Linked DNA regions of Homo sapiens: region 1 is linked to region 2. The links come from fine-mapping of genetic effects on gene expression. Tissue or cell type: whole blood. Region 2 holds a variant in brackets; the other region holds the start of a gene. Each region is shown on its reference strand, or each on the opposite one. Region 1 holds the start of CEACAM21 (CEA cell adhesion molecule 21). Region 2 overlaps RIMS1 (regulating synaptic membrane exocytosis 1).

Region 1 (10,560 bases), not on the chromosome of region 2:
TAAACAATGAAGAGCAAAATGTTAATCCCCAAGACAATGGCAAAAATGTCTCCAGGGCATGTCAGAGACCTTCCTGGAAGCCCCTTCCATCACAGGACTGGAGGCCTAGGAGGAAAAAATGTTTCCTGGGCCAGGCCCAGGGCTCCCCTGCTGTGTGCGGCCTAGAGACTTGGTGCCCTGCATCCCAGCCACTCCAGCCATGGCTAAAGAGGGCCAAGGTACAGCTGGGGCCATGGCTTCAGAGGGTGCAAGCCCCAAACCTTGGCAGCTTCCATGTGGTGTTGAGCCTGCAGGTGCACAGAAGTCAAGGATTGAGGTTTGGGAACCTTCGCCTAGATTTCAGAGGATGTATGAAAATGCTTGGATGTCCAGGTGGAAGTTTGCTGCAGAAGCAGAGCCCTCATGGAGAACCTCTGCTAGGGAAGTGTTGAAGGGAAATGTGGGGTTGGAACCCCGACACAGAGTCCCTACTGGGGCACTGCCTAATGGAGCTGTGAGAAGAAGACCACAATCCTCCAGACCCCAGAATGGTAGATCCACTAACAGCTTGCACCATGCACCTAGAAAAGCTGCAGACACTCAACGCCAGCCTATGAAAGCAGCCAGGAGTGGGGCTGTACCCTGCAAAGCCACAGGGGTGGAGCCCAAGGCTATGGGAGTTCAGCTCTTGCATCAGTGTGACCTGGATGTGAGACATGGATACAAAGGAGATCATTTCAGAGCATTAAGATTTGGCTGCCCTGCTGGATTTTGGGCTTGCATGGGGCCTGTAGCCCCTTTGTTTTGGCCAGTTTCTCCCATTTGGAATGGTTGTATTTACCCAGTGCCTGTACACCCATTATATCTAGGAAGTAACTAAGCTTGCTTTTGATTTTACAGGCTTATAGGTGGAAGGGACTTGCCTTGTCTCAGATGAAACTTTGGACTTGGACTTTTGGGTTAATGCTGGAATGAGTTAAGACTTTGGGGAACTGTTGGAAGGCATGATTAGTTTTGAAATGTGAGGACATGAGATTTGGGAGGGGTCGGGTGGAATGACATGGTTTGGCTCTTCTTCACCCAAATATCACCTTGAATTTTAATAATCCCCACGTGTTGGGGGAAGGACCCAGTGGGAGGTAATTGAATCATGGGGGTGGATTCTTCCCATGCTGTTCTCATGATAGTGAATAAGTCTCACAAGATCTGATGGTTTTAGAAAGGGGAGTTCCTCTACACATGCCCTCTTGCCTGCCGCCATGTAAGACATGCCTTTTGCCTTCTGCCATGATTTCAAGGCCTCCCCAGCTATGTGGAACTGTAAGTCAATTAAACCTCATTTTTAAAAAAATTACCCAGTCTCAGGTATGTCTTTATCAGCAGCCAAGACCAGCTCGGTCGCGGAGATCCTAACCCAGCAGTGCTAGAGGAATTAAAGACACACATAGAAATATAGAGGTGTGAAGTGGGAAATCAGGGTTCTCACAGGCTTCAGAGCTGAGAGCCCCAAACAGAGATTTACCCACATATTTAATAACAGCAAACCAGTCATTAGCATTGTTTCTATAGATATTAAATTAACTAAAAGTATCCCTTATGGGAAACCAAGGGATGGGCCGAATTAAAGGAATAGGTTGGGCTAGTTAACTGCAACAGGAACACGCCCTTAAGATGCAGATTGCTCATGCTATTGTTTGTGGCTTAAGAACGCCTTTAAGCGGTTTTCCACCCTGGGTGGGACAGGTATTCCTTGCCCTCATTCCTGTAAACCCATAACCTTCCAGCTTGGGCATTAGGGCCATTATGAACATGTTACAGTGCTGCAGAGATTTTGTTTATGACCAGTTTTGGGGCCAGTTTATGGCCAGATTTTGGGGGGCTTGCTCCCAACAGACTAATACACCCATTTTCTGGTATGTGACTCTAAAGTCCTTAGAATCTTCAAAGTGATGTCTTTTTCAAGCTAATAATTGACTGATGACTGGCAGCCCCTAGGCAACTTCAGAATGAGGCTGGTCACTGACCCAGGTAGGATTAGAGGGTTGGGACTTTCAGCCTCACCCCTAATCCCTGGGGAGGGACCTGGAGTTTGAATTAATCACCAATGACCAATGAATCAATTAATGGCCAATGATTGAATCAATTAATGGCCAATGATTAAATCAATCATATCTATGTCATGAACCCCAAAAGGACTGGGTTTGAAGAGCTGAACCCATGGAAGTTTCTGGAGTGTGGTGCATCTGGGGAGGGCATGGAAGCTCCACACCCCTTCCCACATGCCATGCTCTGTGCATCTCTTCATCTGCATCCTTTGTAAAGTCCTTTATTACAAACCGGTAAGCCTAAGTATGTGTTTCCCTGAGTCCTGAGAGCTGTTTGAGCAAACTAATCCAACCCAAACAGGGAGTCATGGAAACCTCAATGTGAAGCCAGTCATAAGAAGCTCTGGAGGCCCAGACTTGTGACTGGTGGGAAGGTGGTGGCAATTTTGTGGGACTGAGCCCTCTGCTGATATGTCCAGGTAGATAGTGTCAGGATGGAATTGGAGGACACCTAGCTGATGTACGGTGCAGAACTGATTGGCTGCTGGGTGTGTGGGAGAAACCCCCCCCCATCACATTTGGTCACAGAAGTGTGTCTGTGTTGATGATTGTTATTGTGGAGTGAGAGCAGAGGAAAAACACAGTTTGAGTTTTTCCAAACAGGGTGGAATCCCATCTGCCAATTTAGAATCTGAAACTTATAGTTTCAGTACTTCAATTAAGATTGAAGTACTTCAATTCAGTACTTCAATTAAGATTCAGTACTTCAATTAAGATTCAGTACTTCAATTAAGATTACAGAACTGGTAAGTGAAAGTGATACAACAAAAATGTAACCAAAGTCTGCTCAACTTAACAGCTAATAACAACAAAGTTCATAAAAATAATACCAGTCGATATTGATAGCACTGATTGAGCCCTGGCTCTGTGCATGACCTTGTTAAGGGCTTTAATCGCATTAATCTCTGAATAAATATCCTCACAACCACCCTGAGGTCCAGGTGTTTGTAACAATTCTACAGATGAGGAAACTGAGGCCCAGGAGGTTGAGTGTCTTGCCCAAGGTCAAATACCTGGTACCTATTGTAACCAGGATGATAACTGGATGAGTCTAATCCCTGAGTTCTTACCCACATTGCTCCCCAGGCTCTGAAGGAATCTCATCCTTCTCATTCCGTGTATCATTTTACACCCCCCCTCCCTCCTAGGAAAATATACAAGGAAAGGAGTGAGAGGGGCCGAGGGTCACTCACATTTTACAGTCAGCTTGAGGGGGTCGCTCCTGTTGGAGCTGACTGGGTTGGAGACCTCACACTGATACTCCCCAGCGTCCTCCTGCCTGATGGGGTCTATGGTGAGCACATGGTTAAACCAGGACAGCTTCATCCTCTTCGTGACCTGCAGACGCTGGTTGTTGAAAATCCACTGGAAAGAGGTTCCAGTGTTATTTGTGTGGCAGGTCAGGACCACGGAGCCCTTCTCTGTGACTGTGGTGCTGCTGGCTTGGATGGAGGGCTGAGCCACTGACTCTGTGGATAGAGTGACCAACAGAAAGTGTCTTGGGGCCATGCTGCATCCTCAGAGATCTCAGAGTCAAATTTAGAACATTCTCCTGTGAATAAAGGAGAAAGATGAAGGACAGGGAGGAGCAGAGAGAACCAGAGACACCCATAGCAGCGAGCAGTAGGGACTACAGTGACCTCAGAGACCCCAGGGACCAGGAGGACCCAGCTGCCTCAGACCAGGACCAGGGAGCCCTGAAAACCCTCCCACAGATGAGCGGCCCCAGAGTCACATGAGATGCAATACCTGGGGTGGCTTTAGGAGCAGGCAGTCAGAGAAATGGAACATGGGTCTCAGCCCCTAAGGGACAAGGAAGAGGTGTGGCCAGCTCCTCCTAGGATCCTACATCCAGGACCCAGTCTGTAAAGAGGTTATGATTATTCCTTTCTTTTTTCATTAATTCCCTCCCTCCTTCATCAGAGAACTACTGAGTGTGTGTCTCAGTTGGGCCTTGTGCAGGTACAGGGTGTAGTGGGAAGAGAAAGCTGAGTCCTTTCCTTCATCCTCCCATGGGAGTGACATCAACAAATCAAGAAATTCATGATTTCACGTCCAGTGAGGGAAGGAATGTGGATCTGATGGGAGAGGCTTGGACAATCCTGGCATTGAGTCTGATAGTTGAGACAGGTGATTTCGTTCTAAGTAAAAACTGACTAATTCTCCATTTGCCCGTCATTCCTCAGACCAGAATCTCCCTCTCTGAGCTGAGGATGCCCAAGAAGAAAGGAGCTGAACCAACATCTGGTCCTGGGGTCCACAGATGCCCCACGGTGGTGGCCACGACCAGATTCTGGGCTGCAGACACACGGTGGTGTGACGTTGAGCACTGACAGCCTGTGTGATGCTGATGCAATTTCTCTTTAATAAAATGGGGTACATGTCAATGGTCCCTGGCTTGCCATCCTCTCTGTAAATTAACATTAAAATATTTACAATTACCTGACCTAAAGCTTGGCACAGAATAGCTCCAAATAAACATCATCTATTATTATTTTACTCCAAAAAAAAAAAAAAAGAGTTCTCTGGGCCTGATTCCTGGTGGAGAAGGAGCGGTCCAGAGTGTCTTTTCTCTGCTTTCCCTCCTCCTGAGGACAGTGCACTTCCCGGGACATCTTTTAAGTTTCCCATCCAGTTTAATGGCCTGGGAAGTTTGTTTGTCTGTCCTCTCCACTCTGACTCTCAGGTGAAAGATGAGGCTCTGCCCTTGCCCAGATGGGGCTCTGGGGGCTGAGCCCTGCCTGGTGACCAGCTCTAGGAACCACGGCCCTGGGACAGCTGGTAAATCCTTGCTCACAATCAGCCCTGCCCAGGAAGCCACAACCCAGCCCTGGCACAGGCTCCCCAGGGTCATCTGGAGTCAGGATCTTGGGACAGGGGCCTGGGGCAGGGGCTTCAAGGGCTGAGCTTCTCTCAGAGGATCCTCAGGCCAGGCCCTGACTGAGTCCTATAAGATCTTTCTCAGGTCATGTCTATGAGGAGGAGGCCAAGGGGGGTTGGACTGAGACTGATTTTCCCCCGCTGCATCTCCCGCATCAGACTATCCTTCTTGCTGTAGGGAATTTCCACGGAGTCCGGATAAGGGAAAGGAATTCTGATCTGTTATAGTTTGTCTCCCCTGGGTGTGTCCTGCACTAAATGCCCAAACCCCAACATGGGACGTAATGCAGAGGGGGATGCAGGCACAGCCCAGGCCTGACAATCCTGCGTATGTGAAGCAGAACTGACCCCCAACACCCAGAGGCACGGAGGAATCACTCACCGTATACACGGAGATGGTGAGATGCCTGTTCAATCTGAGAATTTCTGTATGTGACTTGTAGGTTGTAGTATCCCGTGTCCTCTAGGGTGACGTTCTGGAAATGCAGATCTCCACTGGGTGATATTGTCTCTCGACCGCTGTATGCAGGCCCTGGAGTCCTAACGTGAGTGTCTATTACATATGCTGCGATTAGCTGGTTGGGCTCCACCGTTTTCCCTTTGTACCAGCCATAGCTGTAAAGATTCTCGGGCAGATAAACCACAGAGAGATGAACATTCTCCCCTTCAGCAACTTCAAAGGGCGCTGATGCAATAAAGAGCCAGGCAGTGGTGGGTGCGTTCCAGAAAGTTAAAAGTGAGGCTAGGAAAGGGAGAGAATATCAGTCAATATTTGACCTATGCATTGGCATGGAAAGACGGGGTCCTGGGTGCAGGTCTCTTCACCCCTCAGCCTTAGAGGGTGTGTGTGTGTGTGTGTGTCCTACTGGGTCAAAGTCAGCAGCATGACCCTCATTCCTTCAGTACCTCTGACCTTGGCATTTCCTTGTGTGAACCCTCTTTCCCAGGGGTCTGCATGGTTCCCTCCCCACTGCCTTCAGTTCCTACTCACACAAGGGAATCCCTGGGAGACTTCTTTCGTGAAGCCTCCTCTAGAGACCCTGGGTCTTCCCTTTCTGACCTTTCCCAGCTCTGTTCCCTCCAGGGCTCTTGTCAGCACCTGACCTCACATTCTAGATCTCTTTGGGTGTCTGTCTTCCCCCCCATGAGATTGTGAGCTCTGTGAGGGCATGGACTTGAGTGATGTTAGTTGCACCCCAGTGCCTGGGACAGGCTGCAGACTCCTGTGGATGAGTTCATGAGCGTTCCCAGGGCCTTCCATATCCTGGGGTTTATTTGCTAATGTCTGAGGTTGGCAGATGAAGACAGAGTTTCATGCCCTGGTGGTGTTTTTATTTAAATTGTCACTGTGATATAGTTTTACTATCATTTTCAAAGTGTAGTGGCCACTGACAATGAACTTGAAAACATGGACCAACTGAGATTGTTTTGCCCCTTGGCAATTCCAGTTCACTTAGATTTTTTGGTTCTCCTTAGACGCTCTCTCCCCTGAGTCTCTAACAAAAGCCCTCTGTCTCCTCTCAGAGCCCCATCCTCCCCAGGAGACCCCAGCCAGTCTCTGTGCTCCCTCCTCCCACCCACTCCCAGGGAGTCCTCCCCTCACCTGTGAGCAAGAGCCCCTGCCAGGGGATGCATTCTCTGTGGGGACAAGCTGAGGGGGGCCCCATGGTCTCTGCTGCCTGCTCTGTCCTCCTCTGTGGAGAGGAGCTTGGGCTCCAGGAACGCTCTAGACAGGGTTACTGTGACTGTTGTCTCTGCTGTCCTTCCTTCCTCTATGCTGAGCTTCCTCTCAGGCAGGAGCACTTCCCGTTTATGGGCAAGGGCGGGGCTCTGCCTACAATGTCTCTCTGTCCCCTCCCCTCTCAGTCCTGCCTCCCTTGTCCCTCCTTTCTCCTTCCTTTTTGCCTATATTTGGTTCCCTAGGCAAAACTTTGAGAAGCAACGCTGATGGGGTCCTCATAACAGGACGACCCACTCTCCCCAGTACTGACCTCTGCTGTGTTCTGGCCTTGGTTCTGTCACAGCCGGTAGATTATTTCCCTTTGTGACACACAAAACCAGCTGGGCCCTGGGTCTCCTCATGCTCTCCAGTGCTCCAGGAAGGCAGAATGATGCCCAGCAGGAAAGTGACAGAGGTGGCTCTGGGGGCTAGAAAGGGGCTCACTGGGTGATGGCTGGGAAGGACCCACCCGCTATCTTCAGTGTCACCAGCCTGGCCTCTGACCCAGGGACAGAGACCCAGGCCTGGAGGTCTCGGGAGGATCCCCAGCTCCTAGGTGTGGAGGGAGGTGTCCTGTGTGTCCTGGGAAGAGAGGACTTTGATGGAAGGAGGTGGGAGGCTCTGGGTTCTGCTGTCCTTGGTGAAGGTTTCAGGGGGACCCTCTCCGTGTCTGGGGTCTGTGCCCCCAGCTTAACTCTCATTCTCTTTGCAAATACATATATTTTGTGGATCTGCAGTTGCCTGAACTGTCTCATGTCCCTAAATCTTTGTATCCCTTTTTACAGAAGGTCAGGAAGGGTGTGTACATGAGTATGAGGACTATCTGATCAGGGCGAGTGTTTGTTTCCCAAAGATCTCTTTAGATATGGTATAATACATAAGATAAATGTACTGAATTAGCAATTTTAAGTGTAGAATTAAATGATACTAATTCTATTCACAATGTTGTACAACCATCACCATAATTTTTTACCAGAAAATCTTCATTATACCAAATGGAAACTTCATACTTTTAATCAATAACTCCCCACTTCCCCCTGCCCCACCCACTGGTAGCCTCTGATACTATCAATCTCTGTGAATTTGCCTAGTTTACATGTCTCATATAATAAGGAATTATATACGTGTATTATTTTTTTCTGGATTATTTCTCTTAGGGTAACACTTTTAAGATTCATCCACGTCGTAGCATATATTACAGCTTCTTTCCTATTTATGGCTGAGTAATATCCCAATATATGTTTATACCTCAATTTTAATTCATTCATCTCTTAATGGACATGTGGGTGGTTTCCACATTTTTGCTATTGTGAAAACCGCTGCAATGAACTTACACTTGGAAGTATCTGTTTGGGTTTCTGTGTTCATTTCTTTGGGGGTACATATAGGAGTATAAATATGGGGTCATGTGGTAGTTCTATGTTTAAGTTTTTGAGAAACAGCCAAACTGTTTTCCAGTTTGCTGTGCTATTTTATATTCCCATCAGCAATATACGAGGGTTCCATTTTCTCTACATTCTTGTAAACACTTACTATTTAATATTTTTTAAAACTTATAGCCATTCTAGTAGGTGTGAAGTGATAGCTCATTGCAGTTTTGATTTTCATTTCCCTGGTGGCTGATGAAGTTGAGCATTTTTTCATGTATTTGCTGACAATTTTAATATTTTTTAGAGAACTATTTATTCAAATCATTTGCTGTTTAAAAAAAATGGGTTATCTTTTTATTATTCAGTTGTAATAGTTCTTTATATATTTTAGATACAAGTCCCTTATGGGGTACATGATTTGCAAAATTTTTCTCATATTCTGTGTCTTCTCACTTTCTTCATGGTGTTCTTTGAAGCACAAACATTTTTAACTTTGATGAAGTTCACTTATCTATTTTTAATTTTGTTACTTATGCTCTTGATGTCATATTGAAGAAACCATTGCCCAATCCAAGATCATTAAGTTTTACTCCTATATGTTCTTCTAATGGTTTGATAAGTTTTGCTATTCCATTTAGGTTTTTGAAACATTTTGAGTTAACTTTTGTATGGGCTGTGAGGTAGGGGTCTAACTACACTATCTCGCATGTGGTTATCCAGTTGTTCCAGCACAATATGAAGAGGCTACCATTCTTTCCCCATTGAGGAATCTTGGCACCCATGTCAAAAACCAATGGGCTGTAATGGTGAGGGTTTATTTCTGGACTCTTGATTCTATTCCATTGATCTCTATGTGCATTCTTGTGCCAGAAGCACACTGTTTTAATGATTGTAGTGTTTTAGTAAGTTTTCAAATTAGGAAGTGAGTCCTCCAATTTTTTTTTCCAGATTGTTTTGGCCATTCTGGGGTGACTTTTAAAAAAGATGTAGTTCAATGGTTCTCAAAGCAGGAGTGGTTCAGCTCTCCTTTTTTGGCAGTCTGGAGACCTTTTTAGGACCTTAATCTAAGTAGATAAATTATTCCCACTTTCTTTTCTGAGTTGCTATGTTACAGTGTATATTGACACCCATGAAATAATTGAGAGACCCTGGAAGTGCTTGCCTACATAGTGAGGGACAATTAGTTCCATGATCATGGGCACAGAAGATTTTGTTTTGGGAAACAATTTTGTTGGTGGAGTTATATTCATGCTTACTCTTTTATTTGTCTTCATAGCCTGCATCTCCTTCAGACTTCATATCTGTTTATTTTCTTGTTTGTCCTCTGGGGTTTGGGTGTTGGGTGACCAGTCAGCTGGAGCTGGAGGAGGTGCTTAGCAAGGCAGTGACCCTGGTTGGGAGGAGCAGGGCTCAGCAGGGTGAAAGTAGCTGGGCCTTGAGTCAGGAGTGGCATCTGGAAGGCCTGACTGTAAGGGTCAGAAGGGCCAGCAGGTGGGTGTCCTAGGCACAAACGGTGGCTGCTGCTGTGGACTGGAGGAAGGTAAGAGGCCCCGAGTATTCCATGTTCTTACTGGCTCCCCAACTGAGGATTCCTCTCCTGGGCTGGTGCTGTCCTGCAGCAGGGAGGGGTTAGACAGGGACGGCTGCACATCAGGCCGGAGTCCATGTCATCCTCTTAGGCACTGTCACTACAGATTGAGGATTCTGTTCATAAGCCAAGCCTTTGCACAAGGAAGGGACCCGGGCTCTCAAGGAAGAGCAGCTCCTGGTCAGACCTCCATCTCCTTCTCTCTCATTGCCTGAGGCCTCAAGCTTGGTCTACCTGGCACAGGGGTCTGGATCCTCCTCCCAGGGTTGGGGTCTTACTGAGCTGGGCACCTGCAGGTGGGAGAAGATCTGGAGGGGCCCCATCTGCCTTCACCAGATTGATGTTGAGGGTCCCTGAGTCCTGCACCACTATCAGGTGCTGAGCAACTTCCAGTGTCAGTGACAACCACCCCATGGTGGAAGCAGAACCACCTCGTGAGAAAGCACCTCCAAGCCTCAGTGCTTGCCATGTGTGGGAATTTGCTGGTTTCAGTTGGGGGCATGTTGGTGGGTGGTCATGAATTCAGGGCCGGATTCTATGCTCACAGTGCACATGCTGGATGTGGTACAGACCCCAGGCAGGGCTCAGTGGGGTGGTTTTGGGTGTGCACAGGTATCTTTTCTGGAGGAGCTGGTGGTGATTTGGCTCCCAGAAGTTCCTGAGCTCTGCAGACTCACCAAGCACTCAATATTTGAGTGAACATTGGGCGAGAGAGCAGAAGGTAAGTGTCAGGGCATCGGGGTTGGTGCCTCTGGGAAGAGGAGGAACATTCTGGGAACAAAGCTCTCCCCCGGCTTACAGGGAGCTTCCCATCGCTCCTGCCTTGAGGATCAGGGAAACTAGGGCCTCTGCTCTTCCAGGGGCTGCTTGCAGGCAGTTTGCTCTGGGAGGGGGTGACCCAGGAGTTGCCTCTCATTT
Region 2 (10,560 bases):
TTAGAATACAAGCTAGCATGAAAGAAAATCCTGGCTAGGGGCAACAAAATCATAGACTTTATTTTGATTCTCAACTGAAGAAATAGCTATGGATCCCTTTAGCATTATAACTAGCTGTTTTGGGAGTTGGAGGTGAAACTTTGGGATTTATGAAAAGGAGATTGAGTTTTTGTAGACTGAACAGCAGTGATCCAGAACAATGTGGAGTCCTCAGTTTCTGTGTTGTGCATTCATTCTACCATCTTGTGTTTGTGTACAGTCCCTGTGCCATACACTAAGCTACTTGTTTATGTCATTATTTTTAACTTGAATTATTTCAAAGGGATTTACAAAGAGTTTCAAGAAGCTGTTTCATAATAACATTATTGGAATAAATCATAAAAAGAAAAAATACATACTAGCTGTGAATTCTTTTATGATTGATGTGAGAGTATAATTGTTTTACAAAGTCCTGGAGAGACAGGGTAAATTAAACTCGTATAATGGGTTATTATACTATTCCTGCAATAGTCCCAGGCAGGAGTTCAGGAAGTCTGTGAACTAAAAGAGAAAAAAGTGCATCTTTTCTTTTTTCTAATCTCTAATTGTAATTTAAAATTTCTTTCATTTATCACTGTAGGTAAGAAACCACAATAGCATAGTAGTACCTGTGACCTTGCTGTCAGTACAGAATCACACATATTCATAATATCAACTAGTATTTATGCTCATCACAGCTTCAAAAACACTGTAGTTATTGGACCTGTCACTAGATTTCTTTTAATACCTCAGTAAAGAAGTCATATGTATTGCTAGATGACAAATTTTTGTTTTATTTTGTTTTTTGAGACAGGGTCTCACTGTCACTCAGACTGGAGTGCAGTGGTGTGACAAAGGCTCACTGCAGCCTCTCCCTCCCAGGCTCAATCAATCTGCAAGCCTCAGCCTCTCAAGTAGCTAGGACTACAGGTGTGTGCCATCGTGCCTGGCTTTTTTTAAAATTTTTATTTATTTATTTTTTTTGTAGAGATGGGTTTTTGCCATATTGCCCAGGCTGGTCTCTCAAAACTCCTGGGCTCAAGTATCCGCGCGCTTCAGCCTCCCTAAGTGTTGGGATTACAGGTGTGAGCCACCACGCCAGACCAAAAATTTGTTGTTAAAATGTTTTTAACTCTTTCAATATAATTGGCTTCATTTTCCTCCTATGTACTTTTTAAAGGAGTTTAACTTCATTATTCTGAGAAGGAGTCTATAGGTATCACCAGGCACCAAAGGGAACCAAAGCATATGAAAAGTTAAGTGCCCTATGGTAGAAGCAATCCCACTCCTCGGTATATACCCAAGGGAAAAGAATTCATTCTATCAAAACAGACACATCCACCCATATGTTCATTGCAGCACTATTCAAAATAGCAAGGACAATGGAATCAACCTAAGTGCCCAACAGCAGTGGATTGGATAAAGAAAATGTGGTACATATACACCATGATGGAATACTATGCAGCCATAAAACAGAATGAAATCATGCTCTTTGCAGCAATATGGATGGAGCTGGAAGCCATTATCCTAAGTGACCTAAGGCAAGAACAGAAAACCAAATACTGCATGTTCTCGCTTATAAGTGGGAACTAAACACTGAATACACATGAACATAAAGATGGGAACAATAGACACTGAGATCACTAGTGAGGGGAGGGAGGGGCCATGGGCTGAAAAGCCATTTGTTGGGTGCTATGTTTACAGCCTGGGTAATGAGATTGCTGACACCTCAAGCCTCAGTGTCATGCAGTTTATCCATGTAATAAACCTGCACATGTACCCTTTAACTTGTAATAAAAGTTGGAATAAAAAAAGAAACATGAGAAGCCTCTAAAATTACACTTGATCCCATTCCATACTTTTTAACAGACTGAAAATGCCTGTTCTATGATAAAAATAAAGAATAGTATATTTTGTCTTAAAAAAGAACTCTATAGTAGAAGAAAACACAACCACTCAGTAGAAAAAAATTCTTTTTGCAGACACTAAATAATAAAATGTAAAACAATCATACAAAAATATTTGCAAAAAGTATTCAGTGACATACTGGAAAAAATAGTTGACAGAAACGCATAGCCAATGCAAGAAGCATCTTTAATAAACACTCAATGAAAACCAAAGGCAAAACATTAGGAAAAAACATGAATTTAGGGTGGAGTGAACATGATGGCAGGAACAAGCTAGAGTGATGTAGGCGTGTGGTTTCTGATGATTTTATGTATTGATAGAACTTGGAAAATGCAGAGGAATGAATAGATAAGATAACACACATAATCAGAAAAGCCGCAGTTGCATGTTGCGGGACATAAATAGGGAAAGGAGTGATAGAATTAAAGTACATGCAAAGGAGGATGAAAGAGATGATCCAGCATCTGAAGAGAGAACCTAGACTGACTATACAGAAAAGGAGAAAGAAAAAGGTGGTAATTTCAGTGAAACGACTCAGTTCCTCTGCTCCTGGAGAAATTGGGGAGAATTCAGTGATATGGGAGCAGATTTGCAGGTAGAGAATAGGTTGGGAACCTTGCATTGCAGAAGGCAGTTAGAGAACCTTGAGAGGCTGAGAATTTCTGGAACAGAAAGATTGTGAGGCTTGCTAATGAAATCATCCAGGAAATGGCACTGAAAATGGTGGTTAGAAAGCACATTTTCTAAAGCTAGACTCGTTCTGTTGGGCTGGGTCAGAGAGGGTGTTCTCTGTCTGCTTCTAAGAGGTGGTGCTCACTAAATGCAAAGGTTGGTCTAGAAAAGGAAGGAACAACCAGCCCTACTGAAGATGCACAGAATGGCCTGAAGACAAAGATGCACAGAATGGCCTGAAGACAGCATTATGTGATATGGGCTATTGAAATTAGCACTCCTATCACCTGAACAGACGACAAATCCTCCTCTGTTTTTATCTACCAGTACTGGAAAGGGACATTGTATCAGTGGTGGTGGATCAGATAAATGATCAGGAAATGAAGGCCAGATTTGTCCAAGAGTTTTGTGTTCATATGAAGTCTTCACAAGGTTAACTTAGACTTCACAAAGTTAGGTTTATGCATAATGGTTATAGGTGCTAACATTTATTAAGCCACTTACTATGAATTCAGGTTTTGTCCTAAAAATGTAATATTTACTATTTACTTTAATCCTCAAAATAATTGTATGAGGTAGGTGTTATTATTATTCCATTTAACAGATATGTTTTAGTGTATTTTATGTTAGCCGTATGTCTTCCTGCGTGCTATAGATATAATTATAATGCCATATTCCTCAAAATGTCAGTCTGGAGTCTTAGAAATATTTAAGGCACCAGATGAGTGGCTCCATAATTTGGAAGAGAGGAGAAGATGAGTGTCATCAGAGTGAGTGTGGTTGGATGTGGCCAATCTTGAGAATTTTTGTCCCACCTTTCCTAGGTCTTGAGAGAAGAGAAAAAATGGATCTAGAGCAGACACAACTTTCCCAACATGTCCTTCTCTAAGGCAGAAGCATTCTCTTTTTTCTAGTAGCATCCATATTGCCTTGGGAGAACTACCCTAACTTTTCTATGTGGTTTGGGTGCAACTGCCTGGATTTCCTAGATCCAGGGCTGGACTCTTGACACAAGCCTGTCTATCAAGGTATTTCATTTTTCTGGTCAGAGATATTTGTTCAGCATTAGGCATGGATCAAGATGATCCAAAGGAGATTCTGCTGGGATGATGGGACAATTGTGGGTTTTTTTAATCCAACTAATACATTTACATTTACAAAAACCAATTGACCACCAAGTATGTGATAAGATAGGTATATACTTTAATTAAAGGAGTTCTGTGGTAAGAGCTATAGAGCAGCAGTCACCAACCTTTTTGGCACCAGCGGCTGGTTTTGTGGAAGACAGTTTTTTCCATAGACCCAGGGGGAGAATGGCTTCAGGATGATTCAAGTGCGTTACATTTATTGTGCACTTTATTTCTATTATGACATTATAATATGTAATGAAATAATTATATAACTCACCATAATGTAGAATCAGTGAAGCCCTGAGCTTGTTTTCCTGCAACTAGATGGTCCCATCTAGGGGTGATGGGAGACAGTGACAGATCATCAGGCATTAGAATCTCATAAGGAGCACGCTACCTAGACCCCTCCCATGTACAGTTCATAACAGGGTTCACACACCTATGAGAATCTATTGCTGCTGCCAACTGACAGGAGGCAGAGCTCACTTGCCTGGCTCACCTCTGGCTGTGTGGCCCAGTTCCTAACAGGCCACAGACCAGTACCAGTCCGTGGCCCAGGGATTGGAGACCCCTGTTTTATTGGGTCTGACAACCTAGACTGGGGTTATTAATGAGCAGCAGGTGGGGTAATCGGAGGAGGCAGGGTAGACAAAACTACTTTTGAAAATTTAAAGAATAATT[C/A]TTTGTTCTATCTCCTTTACTCAAACTGTTCCTGAAGTCTGCATATTATGTATTCATGAAGTTTGATAGTGCAAATGGTGAGTGGTCAGGGGAGGGGGGAGAGAGAGCAGGGAGAGGGAGAGGGAGGAAGAGAGAGAGAGAGAGAGACAGAGAGAGAGAGAGAGAGGCTTACAAAGAGGTTTCAGGGAATGGAGAAGAGCCCACCTGCCTCCTTTTCCTATCCCCCACCCCCATCGTAAGGCAGAGTCGTTCAGGCAACTTGTGGGAGACCAAGCTGGCCAGGAGCTGCCTCGTCACAGAGAAATAGCTTAGGATTTTTTCTCACCTCGTGAACTCTTCATTCTTTAATATGTAGCTTAACTGTCAGCAGTTAGTAGAGGACAAAGAGCACTTAGCATGGCAGGATCCCGAGTTGGTCAGACTTTGGTTCATCTCTCAGCATATGTGACCTTAGCTTGTTGCTTCACTTGTCTAAGCTACAGAGCCTCCTATGAGAAATAGGGGTCCTATACTTACCTCATAGGACTGTTGTGAGGGAGTAAATATAATCCCATAGCCTTTGTATACAAATCAAATACAGTAAGTCCTAACTTGGACTAACTTAATCACCTGATCTTGGAAACTGTGATTTTAAGTGAAACAATGTACAGCAGGTCCTCGATAACATTGACAGAGGAAAAAAAAAAGTTTTTTTAATATGTCATTTTACTTAAAGTCACAGTTTCTCAGAACTTAATGACATTGAGGATTTACTGTATGCTATCATAATTATTTCTTTATATATATATAATGATCTCTTTCAATACACAGGGAGCTACTTTAATACAGGGCTACTTTATATTCTAAGTACTTAATACCTAGTACTTAACAAAATTCTTAATAATGTTGGTTAAGTATAATCAGATAATATATTATCTGGGATACATATGGGGCTGGGATTTCAAGAAATAAGTTGTCAGAGTCAGCAAGAAACCATGAAGACTTAGCAAAATTGCCTTTCCTCAGGTTCCTTCCTCCCATGACTGTAGGCTCTGAAATCCCAACACCGGGTAGCTTTATATGGTTTGAAGCAAGATTACTGCTCTTCTCCTTCTGTCTAGACAATAATTCTGAAGCCCACTCTCATCACCTGTTTCAGTGGCAGACTTTTCTCCTGGCCTCACCCAGCTCTGAGCTTTCTTAATGCACGCGCATCAAACAGCTTTAAATCTGACTGTTTTAAATTGAACTGACCAGTTGTTTTTGCCTCTTACTGACCCAGCCTAACAGATAATCTTGTGTCTTGTAGACCAAACAAATGGATGATTTAATAGGGTAAAATTCAGTCAACTGTTTAAAAACTATAAATAACTGATGCATTCATGTCTCCAAACTCTTTATTGCCTCAAATTTTATGTTGATGTAACTGTGTTTACTTTGCTTTACAAGTTAAAGCCAGCGTGGTCTATAAAAAGTTAAGAGCTCTTAGAAAGACAAGACTAGATCACAAAAGTTATTTTACTACAATGCAAGATGAAAGTAGTGCTTACCAAGTGTTTCATGAGAGGCGATGATTATTAAATACATGAGCACACTTTCAGGTAAGAAAAAATAATAAAATAACCTAAAAAGTTAATAATGTCTCTTTGAATATATTATTTTGGATATCTATCTATATTTGAAGATACTTTTATTATCTAAGATTCTATTAAAGATAATTCAGTGTAAATGTAGTGCTTATTTTTTGTTAAATTGGTCTCCTCTAAACCAAAGTTATATAAATTAGTCATGGGTTCAGAAGAAAAAGATGGAAAGAGGAAATATACTATGACGAGAGACGCAGGAATCAATTTTTTGATATGTCACGTAACTTGAAATAATTTGGCAATTGGACAATAGAGTTGTCTCTTTTATTAGCACATTCAAACAGCAGCAGAAAACAACCTTCCATTTGATTCTTACTGAGATTTATTATTTTTAATAATGCCACTTTTCAGAAGTATAGTCATGTGCTCACTTAGACAGGCTGACGAAGTGAAAACTTGTATGTGATGCAAAGTACCCTTTGGGCCATCGATTAAGACATAATATAGTGCAGTGACAAGTCAAGTCAAATGCCCGCAGCAGACAACAAACCCCAGCCTCCCCTTCCCATGGCCTGGCTCCCATTTTGCACCATAGAACCCACAATGGAAATCTGGCAAGACATAGAACACATATGGCTACTGACTGACATGAAAAGTAAATTTTATTAAACATGTTTACATACATGAATTGGAATTTCATTTAAAAGCACAGGGGAGTGTTAAGACAAGTGGTCAAAATAGAAAGATACTACCCAATTATAATCAGTTGATTGTTGGCCACTAAGACAGAACGGAATCTAGTAGAAGTGCACCAATGCTTCAGTTCCTCCTACTCAGCATGGTGAGCAGTGGTCAATCTGTGCCCTGTGGAATGATGGGCAGATAATTCTGGCATGTGTAAATAATAATAAATAATTCACTTGGTGCAGGCAGTATGTCTATGAATTAAAACCTAGTGTGTACACAGTGTCTACATGTGTTACAGCCCCACAGTAGGAATCTACACCAAAATATTTATTAGAAGGAATTTGGTCCGTACTACATCACGTTTTCCGGAGGGTAAAAAATAAAGTCCATCTATAGACATTTCACCACAGACCCAGAGACTGAGTCTGGCTAAAACCTGCAAAATGTCTATAACAAAAGTGGATGGCTTAGATTTCTTGGTTATTTCGGTATAGTAATTAACAAGCAAACTGTACAAGTACATGCAACATACAAGCTGGCCTATGTGGAACTAACATACATTATTAAATAACCTTTTGTTTCTTTTCTTTTTAAAATTTTTTTTTTTTACAAAATGTGCATGCAGCTCTGAACAGTTCCAAGTCATGCTGCTCTATTTGTGTAATCACAAAAGTGGAGTGACTCATAAAAGGAGGGAGAACATATCAATGCACCTGCAGAGACTGCAGTTTGTAGCACATGTACAGAATGTCACAAGGGAAATTCAAGGCCAAGAGAAACTAAATGAAAATGCAAATTGAAAGTTCATTTTGTTTATTTTCCCCCCAAAAAGTAAGATACTTTGCATTAAAAAATCAAGCTTTGTGCTTGCATCAATCTCAAAGAAATGTAAACTAAAATTCAATAAAAACAATAGTTTAGTGCAGAATATTTCAACTGGAATTTCCAGTGGAATATTGAACAGCTCATACCATGCTCTTTCCAGGGCAGATGGATGTGTCTACACTGAGGTATGGCTGAGAAGCCTGGGCATAGCTCAAAGTGTCTTAGGCTCAAATCCATTCCTAGTCACCATTTTTGGGAAGTCAAAGTATGGTTTATACACATGAGCATTTTTTTAATATCAGGAAGAAAAAGGCATTACAAGGAGTGTTTTCAAAGTACAATTATGCAGTTAGTTTTAGTCCCCAGCATTAGTTGCAGATTGACTTCTTTAAAAGTCTTCCATGCAAAACAATGGAAACCATAAATTAATTTTCTAGAATGCAAACAGATAGGCTCTTCATTAAAAAAGTACTTCTGTGATTATTTATTTTGGAAGATAACTTTTTGTCTCTTGGGTATCCACACATAAGACTTTAAATAATTATAAAATGAAAGCTAGTGAAACCCTTCCTTGGCTTCACCTTATGTAGCTGTTTAACACTTTGGGGAGATGCTACAGAGACTACTTCAGCCCTTTTTTTTGGTGCTTTTGGAAAAAAGAAGGGAAGAATCTCTGTTAGCATCATGAGGCCTGTCATGACACAGCCAAAAAAAAACTAGTGGAAATAACAGATGTGGTGAAAACAAAACAAAAACTCAAGAAACGAAAACCAACAAACAACACACAAATAAACAAAACACACAAAAGAACAAAACAACTCAAACATCAGGGAAATAACACTGCTTGTGGTCTGTGCAGAAATGTGTAGAATACAACTTTTCACAGAGTGAGAGTTTCCAGTTTGTTCAATTTGGTGTGTGTGTGTGTGCATGTGTGTGTGTACGTGTATGCGTGGATTTAAAGTTTCCTCTTTTTCTATTTGTTAGAAGCATCAGTGACTCTCACCAGCATGTTGATTCTTCCTGTAAATTTGATAGATTGCCTTGTTCTGTCATATGAAGCCATGTTTTAAATAACAATTGGGACATATTATTGAAAAACTACTACAGGCAAAACACAAGTTGATTGTCTGTCTCCAACAATGCTTTCGATCATGAAATATCTGGTTCAGATTATTATCCTGAAAAGTAGAGTTTTATTGGAATGACTCTGGTATGAGTTCACTATGATCGAATACAGGGAGGCCCAGTTGAACTTTCCAGAGATGACTGGGAAGCCCGCCGGGTGAGGGGAGTGAGTGTGGGATCCACCAGTGAGGACGGTGGGAACAATTTGTACCATCCGATCACCATGCTGGACAGGTCGAGTTCTTCCAACAAGATCTGAGCCACACCCATAAAGCATTTGTGGTCCATTCTGCCATAGTCTCCCCAGACAATCACCTGCAGAGATAGAGAAATGCAACATTACCTGGACTTCTCTCTGCTTCACATTCGAAGGGCTCAAAGCAACTATGCTGTAAAAGTGGGCCAGTCAGTGAAGCAGAGGAAAAGAATAATGAATACAACTATCACCAAGGAGAAGGCACAGATAAGAAGATACACTAACCTTAAGGTGCTCATAGACACTTCACAATAATTTTAGTCTGATGGAATGAAGGATTGTGTGTTCCTAGTCAATGAGGAGTATTAGCTACATAAGCCATGTTAAAGAAATAAATACATAAGAGTATTTTTATATGAATGCAACACCTTTCTTGTGTAACTACTATCTAATTAGCGATGTACAGGACCATAAAAATCTAAAAATTAAAATTTGTGCAATTTAGGAGGGCAAGATGAGCAATCCAACTCAGTATACCATGGAATGTATGTACCAGAAAGTATGTACAAAGAATGAGAGTATTCATTTGATTTCTTTCGTATTATGGTCTTTTTAGTGAAGGGGTAGGTCAAAAAATAATTGTGAGCTGGTACCTTTTGAGGACTTGCCTGCCAATTTTGATTTAGATGATTAATATTTCAATTAGATCATTAAAAATTACCACAATCTAGGTCAACTTCTATTGGCTACTAGTGTCAGACAAGCCTTCCATTTCACATACTCCCAGGTTCTATTTTCTAATACTTCAGTCGTCTGTAAAGGTTCTCAACTGAACTCATTCACCTGTTTTACACAAGCAGAGTTGGTGGTGAATCATGTCTTTAAAATTTACTGAGTAATTTTGTGAAATTACTTTACCTCTTGAATCTCAGACATAATCTTTAAAATGGGGATAATGATACTTATTGCACATGTTAGTTACAAAATTTAAATAATGTATATAAGCACCTAGAAATGCATCTGGTACTCCACCAGGGCTCAATATTTGCTGGTGTCTGCACACTTCTCTTTTCCTCTCCCTCTTCCTCTTTGTACCCCATGTTTGGTATATAGCAATGCTCAACCAACTATTATTAACATTGTTTTGTTTGCTATATCTGTATCTATCTATCATCTATCTATCTAGTGAGGACATATCTCTATCTATCTATTTATCATCTATCTATCTAGTGAGGAGTGAGGAGGGCTGGGAACAGGGCAAAGCTAGAAGGAGAGGATAGAGAGAGAAAAGACAAGAAGAGAGAGAGATAAAATAAAATTGTTCTCTATTAGACCCACCAAATATTTTTGATATTATATATTATTTATATTATAAACTAACCATTTGAATTTTGTCTACTCAAGAATATTATCCTACATTTATCTTTACCAAATTTTATTCTCTTTGTGTTTGACCATCTCTTCGATGTATGGGTAAAACAGACATTTCAATGTAAAAAGCCAAACAAACTATTACTGACCTGAAGAACTTTACCCTGTGGACTTTCATCAAAAACCAGAGACTGCTGATACAAAGGATCAAGGGTTTTTCGTGCAATTCTTGTCTTCTTCTTGGCTATACAGGCCCCATTTTCCAAAAGATATACTTTGACATATGGAGCTAAACAAAGGTATATTAACATATAAGAAATTATTCCTTAAATTCAACTATTTTTTTAATTAGAGAATTCCCTATTAGAGAATTAGAGAT

What was found.
Region 1: it holds the start of CEACAM21, and the variant in region 2 is fine-mapped to the expression of CEACAM21 in whole blood (TOPMed, PIP above 0.99).

The regions. Positions count from the first base shown.
Region 1 is chr19:41,572,346-41,582,905 of GRCh38, reverse strand. It overlaps CEACAM21 (CEA cell adhesion molecule 21), which reads right to left and starts at 6,740. Exons shown (of 7, transcript NM_001098506.4): 1 at 6,568-6,740; 2 at 5,347-5,706; 3 at 3,278-3,553. The coding sequence starts at 6,631.
Region 2 is chr6:72,398,865-72,409,424 of GRCh38, reverse strand. It overlaps RIMS1 (regulating synaptic membrane exocytosis 1), which reads right to left. Exons shown (of 34, transcript NM_014989.7): 33 at 10,331-10,470; 34 at 6,280-8,929. The coding sequence ends at 8,711. Among named protein-coding and RNA genes, the nearest start is that of KCNQ5, 220 kb to the left of the region's middle. The variant C/A (reference allele first, on the strand shown) is at 4,410.